Linked DNA regions of Homo sapiens. The protein of the gene in region 2 interacts with the protein of the main gene of each other region in a pairwise test. Each region holds a gene or a part of one and is shown on either strand. Other genes may lie near its edges.

Region 1 (7,066 bases), on a different chromosome or scaffold from region 2:
GCTCAGGCTGGGTGTGGGGCACCCCATCCCCTCTCCCCTTCCCTGCTTATTCAGGGCCCACCCAGACAGGGAGGTGGGTGGGGGTCCCTCACCCTCTCCAGTAAGCAGGCTGGGCTCCAGCAGCTCCGACATGTACTCGGCCTCCAGCAGCAGCTCAGGAAGGTCACAGTGGGCCAAGACGAGGCTCAGCAGAGGCAGGAACTCGTCGGCACCCGCGCCCTCCCCTGTGGGGACATGGTGAGAGGAAGAAGCTTCAGGTACAGTCCTTGCTTTAGGCAGTGACCCCTCCCCATGCCCTAGCAACCATTGAGGGGCTTCAGAAAGGATGCGCTCCTCTCTAGGCCTCAGTTTCGCCATCTGCAAGAGGGGAGGGTGGGCTCATTCTCTCCTGCAGGGCTGTTCTAGGGTCCTGGGGACCTGCCGCTGGGGGGCCCGCCTCTGACTCAAAGGGGCAGGGCAGGGTGAGGTGGTGGCAGGGACATACCTTCCTGGGTCCTCAGGGCCATGTAGAGCAGCTTGCAGGCCTGCAGGAGCCGCTTGACCTGGGCGCTGGGTGAGTAGGTGCGGAGCAGCTGCAGCAGCTTCTGGCGCACTTGCTCCAACTCTACTGGGGAGGGCAGGCTCAGGTGGGACCCGAAGGCTCCGGGGCCCTGGGCCCGGGCCAGGCGGAGGCCCTCAGCTAGGCGGCCCAGGGAGCCGTCTGCGGCAAGCCGGCGCCGCAGGCGGGCTGCCAGGATGGGCCGGAGAGGCTTGAGCACAGAGCAATGCAATGACTTCTCCAGGACATGTTCTGCCGGAGGGACAGGGAGGGGTCAGGGGAAGACTGGGGGTATGGGGGGCAGAGGCAAGGGGAGAAGGGAGCAGGGGTAGAATCGGGGAGGAGAGGCAAGGAAAGCAGGAGGAGGTAGCCTGGGTGAGACGGAAGAGTTGGGGGAGAGAGGGGATGGAACTCTCTCGAACAGTGGTAAGACAAGATGGATTTGTAAAGCAGCAGAACAGAATCAGACAGGCTGGCGCTGTGGAGGGGAGCAGAGGGTCGGATGGGGCAGTGCTGGAGCTATGGAGAGACGGAGCCTCACCCAGCCTCTTAGGCGACAGCAGCTTCTCAGGGCCCAGCTCCGCACTCAGCATGGCCCGGGCCCGGCTCAGCGCCTGACGGATGCCCTGCAGCTCCTGGGGCTCGGGCCCAGCCCGCACCTGGGTCAGTAGGTCCTGCACCAGCTGGCCCGCGGCTGTGTGTCGGTCCTGCATCAGTGCTGCCGCAGCCCGGCCCACCTGCCGCTCCGGTGCCAGTAGGGAGCAGAAGGCGGCGCTCATGGACCGAAGCAGAGGTCGTCGGCGGCCCAGGTGGGGTGAGGTCGCTGGGCTCCCCCGGGACCCTGGCACCCCCTCCTCCTCGGAGCTGCTGGGGGAGCCGCAGTCCACCTCTTGGAGGGAGGGCATAGGCGGAAGGCTAGGGCCACTGCCTGCTGGCACGCGGTACCCCACTGAGCTCTCCCTCCGTAGCAGCTGGCAAGGGGGCAGCCGCTCTGTCTGGCTGGGGACTGCCCCTGGCAGCACGGGGACGGGGGGAGGTGGCACGGCAGGTGGAGACAGGGGGCTGGAGGTCTCTGTGGACACGCGCACTTTGAAGCTTCTCTTGAATTTCTCCCGCTTGGTGGGCCCTAGGTCCCCCGGGAACAGGGGGTTGAAGAAGCACAAGGCGGCTCCGGTGCCCTGGTCCAGCTCTTGAGGGGACCGGGCCTTCAGCTGGGGCAACACTGGGCCTCCAGCCGGGCCCCGCTGAGCCTTGATGTTGAGGGAGGAGCTCCAGAACTCTAGGGAACAAGAAACCGACTGGGGCCTCCGGGACTGGTTAGGGGAAGTTTCCCAACCAAGGCAAGGCAGGGGCTTCGGGCGGTGTGCTGCGAGCCTTGCCTTCCCCTCGGCCTCAGCTTGTTCATCTGTGCAATGGGTGGCAGGAAGCCCTTACCAATGCCCAGATGGGAGATGGCCTCCAGCTCTTTGTGAGTGGCTGCGTGGTGGATGGCTCTGGGGAGCTGCAGCGGGAGGAGAAGGATGTCCCTGAGGCCAGAGAGGGGAGCAGAAGGGAGTGAGGGCCGAAGAGGGCGGGAAGGATGGGCTGTCCCAAGGAGCAGGGCCCGTGGACACCAGGCACCCTGCGGGCAGACTCACCGGGTGTGGCAGTAGGCACAGATGAGCTGGACTAGGTCTGGGAACATGAGCTCCGAGCCCTCCAAGGAGACGCCTGAGAGAGGAGGGAAGTGAGGTGCTTCTCTGGGGAACCTCCCTGCTTCCAGCCCCTTCCCGCCAGGCCAGCCCCTCACCGCCAGGGCTCTCCAGGATGTAGTGGCTGGAGACGAAGGAGGGGCCACTGGCTTCAGGCAACCGCATGCACAGGGCCTGGCACTGGCGGGTGTTAGATTTCCGCACGAGGAACGTCTGCAAGTGGATAGGGCTCAGGCAGCTCAGGACCTTGGCGTCCCATCCCTCTCCCTCCCACCCCTGGCTGGCCAGTCCCTGGAGTGTGGGGCAAGACTCACCCCCGGGGGCTCGGTCCTCAGCATGTGCAGTGCGGCCGCTGCGTTGGCTTGCAGCTGCAGCCACACGGGCCGGGTGAGCAGCAGGCGCTCCCGCAGGCTCACAACGCGCCCCGGCCGCTGCGGCCCGCCTGCCTGCCCGCCGCTGGCATTGGGCACGTCATACAGTGGGTCCTGGGCTGGCCTGGGGGCAGGCACCCAGATCTGAGCAGGGAGCCAGGGGCTGGGACCCTTGCTCTCCTCTTCCCCACTCCCGGGTTTCCCACTTTCTCTATCCCCGGATAGGCCCTCCTCTCGCAGCCCCTCCCTGCCCCACCTGGCTGCCCTGCCAACTTCACTAACTTTTCTCTCGCCAGGTGCCCAGTAGTGAAGCTGGACGGGCTGGGGGCTCCAGGAGAGCCCGCGCCTGACTCTCCAGGGCTTTCCATGGCTGGGAGCTCCTTCGCTTCAGGAAGAGAATCCAGTCCCAAGGCAAGGCACGCACATCCCCAGTGAGTAACACTTCCTGAGGGCGGTCCGCCTGTCACACCCGCCAGTTAACTCTTGTGTGTCCACCCTGCCTGGCCAGTGCCCGCCTCCTCTGTTCTGGACCCTGCTTTGGGGGTCAGGGGTCCCCTCCATGCTAGCCCTGCTCTGAGGGCCCCAGCTGGGGGATGCCACCTCCACACACGGCCTCCTGCAGCCTCACCAGCTACTCACATTGCACACGTGGGCGGGAAGTGGTTAAGCGGCCTCAGTCCCCACAGGCCCCAGCCATGCTCTGGGGGCACCTTTGGCTCTGTGGTCAGTTGCTCATCTGCCCCTGGCCTCAGGTCAGCCTTGTGGGAGAGCACCCTCTACTGTCCATAGATGACTCATTCCTGAACCTGGGTTTTAGGATTTTAGGTTGCCATGGAGAAAATATGCCATGTCTCCATGGAAACCAACCTATTTGCTTAACTGAGGTTCTGGGGGTGGTTCTGACACTCAGTGCTAACCAGGGGGAGTCTGGCTGTGAGGTCGTCAGCACATGGCGGTGCTGCCGGCTGCCTCCCACGCACGCAGGCTCTGCCAGCCTGCCTTGCCAATCTGCCAGGCAACTGGGACAGGTGCAGACATGACCCAGGCTCCAAGCACACGCATCCACCCTCCCCGCCGAGGCACTCTCCCGGTGCCATATGTTGACTCTGCCCAGCGCCAGGCAGCCCAGCGCCCACCTCCCCCTCCCCAGCCTGGCCCCACGCACAGTGCTCTAGCCTCTGCTGGGTAGTGTGAGGAGTGGCAATCTGCAGGCACCCTAGAAGTCGGCCTGGTTCAGGTGCTCCCCACGGGAGCCCTGATTCTCTTGCAAGGTAAATCACACACACACACAGGGCACGCCAGAGTCCCAGGAAAGGTTTTAATTCCAGTCCTTGGAATCTGAGAAGCAGACACCAAGAACTGCCCTGAGAACACCTGGGGGGCCTGGCATCTTGCCTCCAGATCCAGCCAGGGTGGACAGACCCCCAGATAATCACGTCTGACTCAGAGTTCCCGCACAGTGGAAACTGGCTCCCTGGCCCTGAGGCCGGACAGCCTGCATCCAACATCAGCAAGAGGATGTGGCTTTGACTTCGGCTGTCTTCTCTGTCAGGGGAGCCCCAAGAGATGGATCTTCAGGAGTGGGAGGTGGCAGGCGGCTCAGGGATGGAGACAGCAGCCTTGCCTGGTCAGGTCAGCTCCACGGCCACAGCTGTGCAGGCCTCGAGGAGGGCAGAGGAGGAGTCCAGGCCAGTGCCAGATGGAGTGGGAGGGCCCAGCAGCACCACAGGAGCCTGGCTGGGCAGACCCTGAGGGGCCTGTGGGTCCGCCTGTCTGCAGGAGGAAGACGAGAATCCTGGGTGCAGTGCCAGCTGCTCTGAGGGTCCCCCTGGCTGTGAACAGCAGGGTCAAGGTCCTGTGCATATGTGGGAAGAAGAAAACTGTCACCAGTTAGGAAGCTGAAAGGAAGGAGGCAGCCACTTACTGAGTGGCTTTGGGCTGGCCCAGAACAGGCCTCCTGGGCAGCTCCACAGCCCTCCCTGACCCCTCCTGAGTGGGAGCTCCATCAACCCAGAGCTTCCCCAGCCCCATCCTGGTTCCTGCTCCTCAAACTCCCACAAGCCCCTCAAATCTAGACCATCCTAACTTTCTTGAGCCACTGATTCTGACACAGTCACAGCCTTTCTCTGGGCTCCTTCCTGGAAGCTGAGCTGAGGAAAGGTGATGGCAAGGGGGCAGGGAAGGCCATGCAACAGCCATGGTTCTTACCATCCGATTTTCTCTTCTGAGGGGACACAGCTGCCCTAGCCTGGGTGGGTGAGAAGAAAAGCTCCCCTGAGAGCCCACCTCCAGCTTGGCAATCCCTGCCCCACCCCCCACCTCTGTGGCTTGTGGGCTGTTGCCTCAGTGCTGTGCCCCCAGGACCGGGAGCATAGGCCCCACCCAGGCAGAGCTCCCATGCTCCTGACTGCTGGCCAGCTCAGCGGCTCTCCCGCCTCCCCGCCACCCTCCCACCCCATCAAAACCTGCCCCAGAACGGGAAGGGGCTGACACAGACTAGAAATCCCTTTTCCCAGGGCCGCCTTGAGCAAGAGGACTTGTGAGCCAACTGCGATCCAGGGACTCTGGGCTGAAGATGGGGAAGCCTTGGTGAGCAGAGAACTCCCAGGCCTGCAGATGGCAGAGCTGCTGCCAGGGTGGGGGGCCCTGAGGTGGGGCAGGTCACGTGGGCAGCAGCGGCCCCCACCTTTTTGATGGCTGTCCAGTCCTCCAGGATGTCGATCTCTTGAAGCATGTACACGATGTATGGGCCTGTGGTGGGGGTCAAGGAAGCCTAGTGGAGGTGGCAGGTGACGAGGGCAGGGCCACCCACCTGACATTCAGGAGTGGGGGTACAGCGGACAGCATGGAGTGGGAGCTGAGGACCTGGGTCCGAGGTCAGGTTCCACCTCCTACCTCTTAACCCCCTGGTTCCAGGGGTCGTCCTGGAACCAAGTCTATGGAGGACACCAAATGTTGTTCCCTGTCCCTTGCTCACCCTCACCTCGTCTTAGGTCAGCTGGCTGAGGCCCATCCCATCTCACTCTGCAGCACTGGCCCTAACCTGGCCCCTTCCCTGATCCAAAGACAGACGCAGGGCTTATCCCTTCAGAGACAACTCTCCCTCCCCCAGTGCTCCCTACTTGATGTCTCCATGCCTTCACCTTCCATTCACTCAAGTCATGGCCTTCCAGATTCCTCCCTCCCTGCCTGGGCCTGCTCTCCAGCACCAGGTTGCCATAATGACTAAGACTGGCTGCTGCAGGAATACCCTCAGGGGTGCAGGAGGACTCAGCTCTGCCAGGACAGATGAAAGCACAGCAGGCCCTGGACTAAGCTTAAGCTAGCCCTGCCTAGGAAGGGGTGGAGGCAGCCAGTGCCCTCTGGGATGTGGGTACCCCATGGTAGGGCACAGAAGCACACAGGAAAGTGAAGCCATAGGCACCAGGGTAAGACCAGAAGAGGCCTCACAGAGGAGGTAACGTTTGAGATGAGCCCTGGACAGTCGGGACAGGCAGGACTTCCAAGAGGAGGGTGGGATATGAGCAAAGGCTCCCCAGGGAAAGCTGGGGACCCGCTCGGACAACCCCGGGAGATGGAAAGGCCTCAAAGGCCAAACCTCACTCAGGCTCAAGTGCAGTGGCACCATCACGGCTCACTGCAGCCTTGATCTCTCAGGCTCAAGCAATCCTCTTACCTCAGCCTTCAGAGTAGCTGGGACTATAGGTGCACACCACCACGCCTGGCTAATTTTTGTTATTTTTTCTAGAGATGGGTTTCACCATGTTGCCCAAGCTGGTCTCGAAAAGAACTCCTGGGCCCGAGCAATCTACCCGCCTTGGCCTCCCAAAGTGCTGGGACTGTAGATGTGAGCCACGGAGCCCAGCCCGTTTCTGTTTTCCTAGGGTTCACATAGCCCAGAGAGACCCAGGACCCCGTAAGAAACTGCTGACAGCTGGATTTGCCTGGACATATTCACATGACACCAAGCAACCACGAGTGCATCTAGTGTGACTGTCCTCCATGTCCCCTCCAACCCCCTCCCCTGGGTCTGGAGTTGACCCTTACATCCTGCCCACTTTTAGGCCACCTTGGGTGAAAGGATACCAGAAACCAGAGGTGCCTTCTTCCTCTTGCTGGGCGGCAGGGAGTCCCAAGACCTGGAGCTGCCTCTGGCGTGCAGTTTGTCATCCCACCATTCTGCCCCGAGACCCAGAGTTAGAATTGGGGTGCTGGCCCACAGGATACTCCCTTTTCTGTAGCCTCTGCCTCCACCATGGGCCGGCCTGGCCTCATCTCCCCTGTCCCATCACCACCCTGGGCTTGGGGTAGAAGCCCCTTAGGGCTGTTCAGGTCCTGCCTGCACAGCTGCACAACCCTGGGAAGAGGTCACTGCACTTCTGTGAGCCTCATCTGTTTAGTGGAGAGTGGGATGACGACAATTCCTGCCACCCCAGGACTCCACGTGAACACAGGTACTATGAACA
Region 2 (7,579 bases):
CAGTGGCACAATCTCGGCTCACTGCAACCTCCGCCTCCCAGGTTCAAGCAATTCTCCTGCCTCGGCCTCCCAAGTAGCTGGGATTACAGGCACCTGCCACCACGCCCAGCTAATTTTTTGTATTTTTAGTAGAGACGGGGTTTCACTATGTTGGCCAGGCTGGTCTCAACCTCCTGACCTCCTGATCTGCCCTCCTTGGCCTCCCAAAGTGCTGGGATTACAGGCATGAGCCACTGCGCCTGGCTGAAATTTTGGCTTTTAAAATCATTTAGGTCTCATCAGGTATCAATTATTTAAAATGTAAAACTTTCCTAAAGATCTTTTGACTCTTTGTGTGATAAAATACCTTGAAAGAATAGTCATAATCTTTATGACAGAGAGATCTTTAAGGTGTATTTGATATGAAGTCACAAAGAGAAAAATCTTTCGAGTCATTGGTTTTGGGAATTATGTCATGAACACTGAATATAAGGATACTTTTAAAATTTAAAACCACCTCCTTTACTGTATGTGTTGATCTTTGACCTGAATTGGAAGGGGGATTTTTAAAATTTCTCTATAATGTTGTTAAAAAGACATAGGGCCTGTGGGTATTGGGCCTTAAATTGAATTTTCCTTATATAGAAAAATGGAAAAAATTGGTTTAGGTGTTAGGTCATAACAAAAAGTAGGCCCTTTTGAAGATTAAATTTATGCCTGCCTTGGCCTTGTTTAAATCCATGCCTGGCCACAAATATTAGTGTTGTGGCTGTCCATCATCTGAGCAATTGCACAGCTGTTTCATTCACTGCCGTGCGGATTCATCTTTATGTCTATGCTGCTTTGAAGAACCTTCTCAGAGGTTAATGATGAGAGGATGTAGCAGTAGGGACAACACCGTGGCAGATGAGGTCTTTTATTACATTCTTTTAATCATGATTTTCAGCATTAGAAACCAAAAGCTTTATAGTCTCCATGTGAAGAATCCCTGGTGAGCCTGTTTGCTGTGATAATATTAGTCATGGGTTACTCAGTCCTTGATTAAAACCTCCTAGCTTTGTTGACTTGCTAGTCACTATTCACCTGCTAGGAAATATAGGACTGAGTTGTCATGGAAGGAAATAATGGTGCTGGGATTTGAATAAATAATTTATGAGATAATTTCAGAGCCTTTGTCTTCTTCATCCCACCATTTATTAAAGAAGACTTTCCAAAGTATACTGCCATGAGATCTAGAATAATTGAGTCATGTTTTGTGAACCACGTTGGAGACAGACTTCTCTGGGAGGCGACAGCTTCTCCAGAGGAGGCCTTTAGCTTTGGAGTGGGACCAGCCTGGGCTTGAATCCAAGGCCTGCTAGGTTGGGCTGTGTGTGTTCCCGGGCTGGTGGTTTAACCTTGCAGGGTGCTGTGGGCATGTAAATCCTCCAGCGCAGCCCTTGGCAGGTAAGAGGTGCTTCATAAGTGTCGTCCCCCTTCTCTTTTCTGTGGAAGCTGTGTGTTCACCTCCCATGGGAAGACATTCCTAGTCCCCTCCCGTGGGCTCCTCCTCCAGTGGGCTCCTCCTCCAGTGCTCCGCAGTGGAGTAGCCAGCGGGGCGTCCCGAAAGAGCATGGTGCATTCATTCCGTGAGTGCCAGCCACACTGCATGTTCCAAATAACACGCCTCTCTCTCTCCTCAGGTGCCTGAGATCATCAGCTCCATCCGTCAGGCGGGGAAGATCGCCCGGCAGGAGGAGCTGCACTGCCCGTCCGAGTTCGACGACACGTTTTCCAAGAAGTTCGAGGTGCTCTTCTGCGGCCGCGTGACGGTGGCGCACAAGAAGGCTCCGCCGGCCCTGATCGACGAGTGCATCGAGAAGTTCAATCACGTCAGCGGCAGCCGGGGGTCCGAGAGCCCCCGCCCCAACCCGCCCCATGCCGCGCCCACAGGGAGCCAGGAGCCTGTGCGCAGGCCCATGCGCAAGTCCTTCTCCCAGCCCGGCCTGCGCTCGCTGGCCTTTAGGAAGGAGCTGCAGGATGGGGGCCTCCGAAGCAGCGGCTTCTTCAGCTCCTTCGAGGAGAGCGACATTGAGAACCACCTCATTAGCGGACACAATATTGTGCAGCCCACAGATATCGAGGAAAATCGAACTATGCTCTTCACGGTAAAATATCACCCAGCTCGTGCACAGCCCCAGTCTGCCATACGCTTTCAAGAGAAAATCTGCTTTATGGAGCGAAGATTCTTAGTCAATTGCTTTTGATTTATGTGTGAATCCATATATTTTCATGCTGAACAATTCTATTCTTAGGATAAGCTCCTTCCTTTAGCCATAAGCCTTTACAGTCATCAGGGAGAAACATGCCCATGTGTAATTTTTATCTCACCCGGTAATTATAAAGACACCTTTTCAGTGTGGAAAGAACAGTGAAAACGTGTAAATGAGACCAGCAGAGAGATTTAAAAAATATATATGAATTTCAGATGATATATTTCAACAGAATCTTTTAGTTGGAAAACACCCTCTCTACTATTAATATTTTTATTTATGAAACATTTACCCTTTGCTAATCAGGAAGAGTGGCTTTGTGAGTGACATTATATTTGAAATTTATACCCAAACTGAAATATTAATTTAGCCAATGGCTTGCTTGCTTTTTTTTTTTTTAGAAAAAAAGTGTTAAATTGACAGCCAAATGCTAGAAAAGGACTGAACATGGGGGGCTGTCCCAGGTGGGTGGGGTTCCTGGTTCCATGCTGATCTGGGCTCTTCTGAATGGGTGTGCCCTCCCTGGGAGTCCCCTGGGTCTGAACGGATGAGATGTGGAGCTGTCCCGGCAGCGAGCCGGTCTCTGACAATGGAAGAGCTAGTTTCTTCCTTGGCCTTCTCTTTGGCTTAATGCTGACTGACGTTCTGTAGAGAACAAAATTATCTTAAATATAAAGTCTCCTTCTTGTGTCTAATTCAGGGCACAGGTGAGATGGCCAGGGGGTAAAAAACCAGCTACCTAGGTTAGTGCAGTGTGGATGTGTGCAGGTTTAAAACCAAGGGGGTGCACCCAAGGGTAAATAGGGCTGATGTTTTCATCTTTTGACCATTGATCTAGTGTACCGAAAAGAGTAGTCAGATTTGTGCTTTAATTTGTGATCTGCATCTTTTAAAAAAACTTCCTTGGTGACATTGAGAAAGCTGCTCCCTGCATTTATTTATAAGTACTGACTGTTTGACTGCTGTGCTAACGTCCCTTGCCACATGCTGGAAATGCAGCCGTGAACAAGACAAGTATGTTCTCTGCCCACATGGAATTTAGATTCCAGTAAGGGAGACAGGCAACTGAGTGCACAAATAATTATCTAATTATAATTGTGGTAAATGCCGTGGAGGAGAAGTACAGCATGCCTGAGAGCATTTCTCAGGGTAATCAGGAAAGGCTTCTTTGAGAAAGTGATTTTCACCTAACACAAGGTTTCATTGTGGCCACCTGGGAAGGTCTTCTGGGCTCACAGAGCAGCAGATGAGAAGGCCCTAAAGGCAGGGATGGTGCCTGGTGCCTGGAGAATCCCAGAGGCCTGACTGCCTCCTTTGCTCAGCATTCTTCCCTCGAGTTGTCACGGTCTTACCTCCTCTTGCTTCCTTTAGGTCTCTGCTGAAATGTTGACATGGAGGAATAATCGTATCAGTAAGACCAATAGCAGCCTCACTTCCTGCTTTTTTGCTTTATTTTTCTCCATGGCATTTTTACCATTTGACACAATTACAAATAAACAAGTAAAAGATTTTATGTCCCACATGCCCCCAAGAAGATAGGCTTCAAGAGGGCATGGATTTTCATTTCTCTGTTCACTGCTGTCGTTGGTAGTGCCTAGAGCACAGCTGTTGGGTGAGAAATAATTCCAGATGGCCGCACTGAAAACAAGGAAGGATGGTGCGTAGAGATGGGGCTGGGACTGGAGGCAGCCCCATGAAAGTTGTTTTCATCAGGCACAACTTTATGGGTCTTGGTCAGGGTTTTGTTTTTTATCCTGAAAGGAGTGGGCAGTCACTGCATGCTATAAAACACAGTGTGAAATATCTTTGGCTACAGAGCCAGGATACTTGGGGGAGGGCAAGAGTAGGATGGGGAGGGGAGTGAAGCTGTTGTAGTAGTCCAGGTGAGAGATAGTGGGGTTGTGGTAAGTGCAGTGGGAGTGGAAGGGACAGACATGCAGAAAGTCAAATTAATGGGATGTACAATCCTTTGGATGCCATGGGGAAGGAGAGGGATCTCAGGAGCCCCACCCAACTTTGGATTCTGACTTGCTCTTTACAACCCAGCCATAGCTAAGTAATAATGCCTTGGAGCCTCTCACCTTATGAGATTTTCAAAGGTTATTTTTAAAAATAAGTAAGGACTATCTTCATTATGTAGGTAAAGACAGTGACTTCTAAAGAGACTAAACATACTCCAAATAGATACTTATTCGTTGTTTACAAATAAGGAGGATATTGTGTTGGCTCCTACTCTAGAGAGAGACACAGTCTAGTTTAGAAAGATGTTGCATGTTAAAAATGAATTAGTTTTTCATCATCCTTGGTCTCCACAGAAGGACAAGAGTAAAAGGCTACCTGCCACTCTCTGCTGGCTGAAATACAGTTCAGAAACAGTAAGTGTGCAAAAACAATTCAGAATGCAAAGTCCTTGCCCCAAACAGAATGCACGTTTCTTGGGCCCCCTCATTGAGAGTATAATTCCCCTTGACTTACACCCCAGTTTCCAACAAGCTTGTGTATCTGATTTGTATTTTACATCAAAGCGTAAAGAGTTTAGAGGAGGAGATGGGTCTGGGAGTTAAGAATGGCAGCGTCAGGATGTGACCACTGACTTCTTGGTCCTGAGGAGAAACTAAAGCTGTAGAAACCAACACACACTGAAACCCAAGAAGCTTAGCGCTCCAGAGACGAGGAGTCTAAAAGGCAGCCTTTCACAGCCTGCAGGGGCGTGTGCACACAGAGTAGGTTGGGTATTGCAACACAGCAGTCTCCTATAATGCATGTCTATTAGCATGTCCCAAGGCAGTAAGAGGATTGTAATTGATGCTCATACTCTAACTTGAAAAGGTCCGGTCACTAGTGTATGTGAATGCCTCACATGTAATATGTACTAAACAAATGGTAGATTCTTTTAACAATAATTTAAAAAGACTTGTCAGTAAAAATCATTCAAAAGTATCTTGGAAGCTTTGAAAGAGTAGATTCTGTTTTCTGGAAGGTTCACTTATGCGGAGACCTCAGTTTTTAGGGGGATGTGTGGATCTTGAGGCCTATTGCTAACTTTTGGATATCTGGTTCTTTCATCTCAAGGAAGATGGCTGTCTTATCTAGGTGAAGGCACTAATAGATGTGTCTTATGACCTGAAATCCAGAGGATAAGAGGGGACCTTTGAAATGATTTCTACGATGATAGAGTCAGAATTTTATAGGAGCTTGTCCCTTTTATTCTTTATTTTCATAGGTCATGAAATGAGAAAGTTTGAAAAGCTAGATTTTTTTGTTTGTCTTTTAAGATTGGCCAGTCTGAAGTTTACCTCATCAGTCCTGACACCAAAAAAATAGCATTGGAGAAAAATTTTAAGGAGATATCCTTTTGCTCTCAGGTAAATGGAGATGGGTTTTTTTATTCAATTGCAATGGAATTTTTAAATGAATTTCTATAATATCTATCATGTAACAAATGCTAAAGGTTACAAGGTGTATGTTTTCTAAGTACTGTACTTGATTTGTGTTTCGCTTTTCTTCTTTGCTTTGGTATGTTAAGGTAAATTATGAATATAATTTTGAAATTAAGAAATTTGCTCTTAGCAACAGTAATGGACAAAATAGATCTACTTTTAATTTTCTCAGTTATTGGTAGTAATAATCCACAGTCATGACTTCCAGATGCACATGTGTGTGTCTTTGTGCATATTACACATATATATTTACACATTTCACACAAATATATCTTTTTATTAGATATATTTCTACTTTACAAAAATTTGTAACTTTTTTGGGTACCAATTGTCAGTATTCTCCCTTCAAATATAGATAGTGCTTATCTTTGACATATATATTTACACATTTCACACAAATATATCTTTTTATTAGATCTATTTCTACTTTACAAAAATTTATAACTTTTTTAGGTACCAATTGTCAGTATTCTCCCTTCAAATATAGATAGTGCTTATCTCAGAGTACAGTGTCTACTTGAAAACTTTTTTCTTGATAATCTTCCAGGTGTTTCATAGAGGGATTTTGGAAGAATCTATCAATTAAGATTAGCTGTGCCAGTTTTACTCAGGATCTTCCTAACAAATATGAGATCACTTAAGGTTATATTTGCTTTTTTTTTTAAACTCTGGATTTTTCATTTTCATAATTGATAAAATATGAAAATGTCAGTGTTGATTTATAATGTGATCTACTTAAATATTCAAAAGGGACTTTTCTGCAAAATGTGAAAATAAAGAATGTTCTTTACAGATTGAATAGGGAACCATTTACAAAGAAAAAGCTTTGCTAAATCATATTTCCTTAAGTGGTAGCCTTATGCTTAACTTGCTACTGGAGAAGATTAATTGAGATGGCAAAGCATGTTAATGATTGCTCATTTATTGGAAAATATTTGGCCTGAAAGTGAGATTACCCATAGAGTTTTTAATCCTGATTTGCTGCTATTTCTGTTGAAATATGAATGTTAAATGTTTACATTTTTGTGTGATAGCTTTATAATTTCCTAAAGAGTGTAGTTTACAAGTTTATATGATTACCTGAACATTAAGCTATCAGCACTCACATCTCTGCATGATGATGCTTTCAGAATACATTGATGTATTAATATTTATGGCAGACGTTTTATCTGTATTAAGGTGCCTCTGATAGCTGATGATTTTAAAACACATTTACATATTAATATTTATTAAAAATAGCTCTTATGATACCATGGTAGAGCCTTGGCCTAATATGTTTAAAAGCTCCTCTACTCTGTGTGCATGTAATTTTTGACTCTTTCTTTATTCCAGTTCACTTCAGTATTTACCTACTTATTTTAGGAATACAAATATATTTTAAATATTTTTTTAACCTTTGGGTGTGTATGTGCTTAGTTGTGTTTCTTCATGAATCTCTGGTCTGCCTTTGATTTTTTGAGTGGTTTTTATTCTTTAATACCTATGTCTCAAACAAAACAACAAACAAATACTAAAATGAGCACTAAAACTTGAATTTTCAGATCTTATTTTTCTTATTGTTGTGGGAGTAATCAAAGGAACATTCTAGTAAACCAACTTTATTTGAGATGTTTTTAGACTTTTTGAAATTTTAAAATATCAGAGAAAATAGTAATTTCCTAGTGTTTTTTAAAATTGTGCTGTGTAGGCCAGGCGCAGTGGTTCACGCCTGTAATCCCAGCACTTTGGGAGGCTGAGGTGAGTGGATTACCTGAGGTCAGGAGTTCGAGACCAACATGGTGAAACACCATATCTACTAAAAATACAAAAATTAGCCGGGTGTGGTGGTGCATGCCTGTAATCCCAGCTACTCAGGAGGCTGAGGCACGAGAATCACTTGAACCCTGGAGACAGAGGTTGCAGTGAGCT

Evidence for each region. The genes of interacting proteins can lie anywhere in the genome.
Region 1: the proteins of TBC1D1 (region 2) and RIN1 interact in binary tests that used the Homo sapiens proteins (3 or more experiments, as listed by UniProt).

The regions. Positions count from the first base shown.
Region 1 is NC_000011.10:66,333,435-66,340,500, forward strand, and holds the start of RIN1 (ras and Rab interactor 1), read right to left. Parts: upstream 3,001-7,066; 5' UTR 2,969-3,000; coding exon 2,883-2,968; exon of another isoform or gene 2,857-2,882; intron 2,725-2,856; coding exon 2,544-2,724; intron 2,443-2,543; coding exon 2,328-2,442; intron 2,249-2,327; coding exon 2,176-2,248; intron 2,065-2,175; coding exon 1,973-2,064; intron 1,818-1,972; coding exon 1,080-1,817; intron 791-1,079; coding exon 485-790; intron 225-484; coding exon 93-224; intron 1-92. Other genes in the region: BRMS1 (breast cancer metastasis-suppressor 1), read right to left, coding at 4,234-4,455, 5,287-5,351, 6,687-6,779. UniProt on the Homo sapiens protein: Ras effector protein, which may serve as an inhibitory modulator of neuronal plasticity in aversive memory formation. Can affect Ras signaling at different levels. First, by competing with RAF1 protein for binding to activated Ras.
Region 2 is NC_000004.12:38,012,848-38,020,426, forward strand, and holds part of TBC1D1 (TBC1 domain family member 1), read left to right. Parts: intron 1-1,661; coding exon 1,662-2,126; intron 2,127-4,546; coding exon of another isoform or gene 4,547-4,606; intron 4,607-5,506; coding exon 5,507-5,596; intron 5,597-7,579. UniProt on the Homo sapiens protein: May act as a GTPase-activating protein for Rab family protein(s). May play a role in the cell cycle and differentiation of various tissues.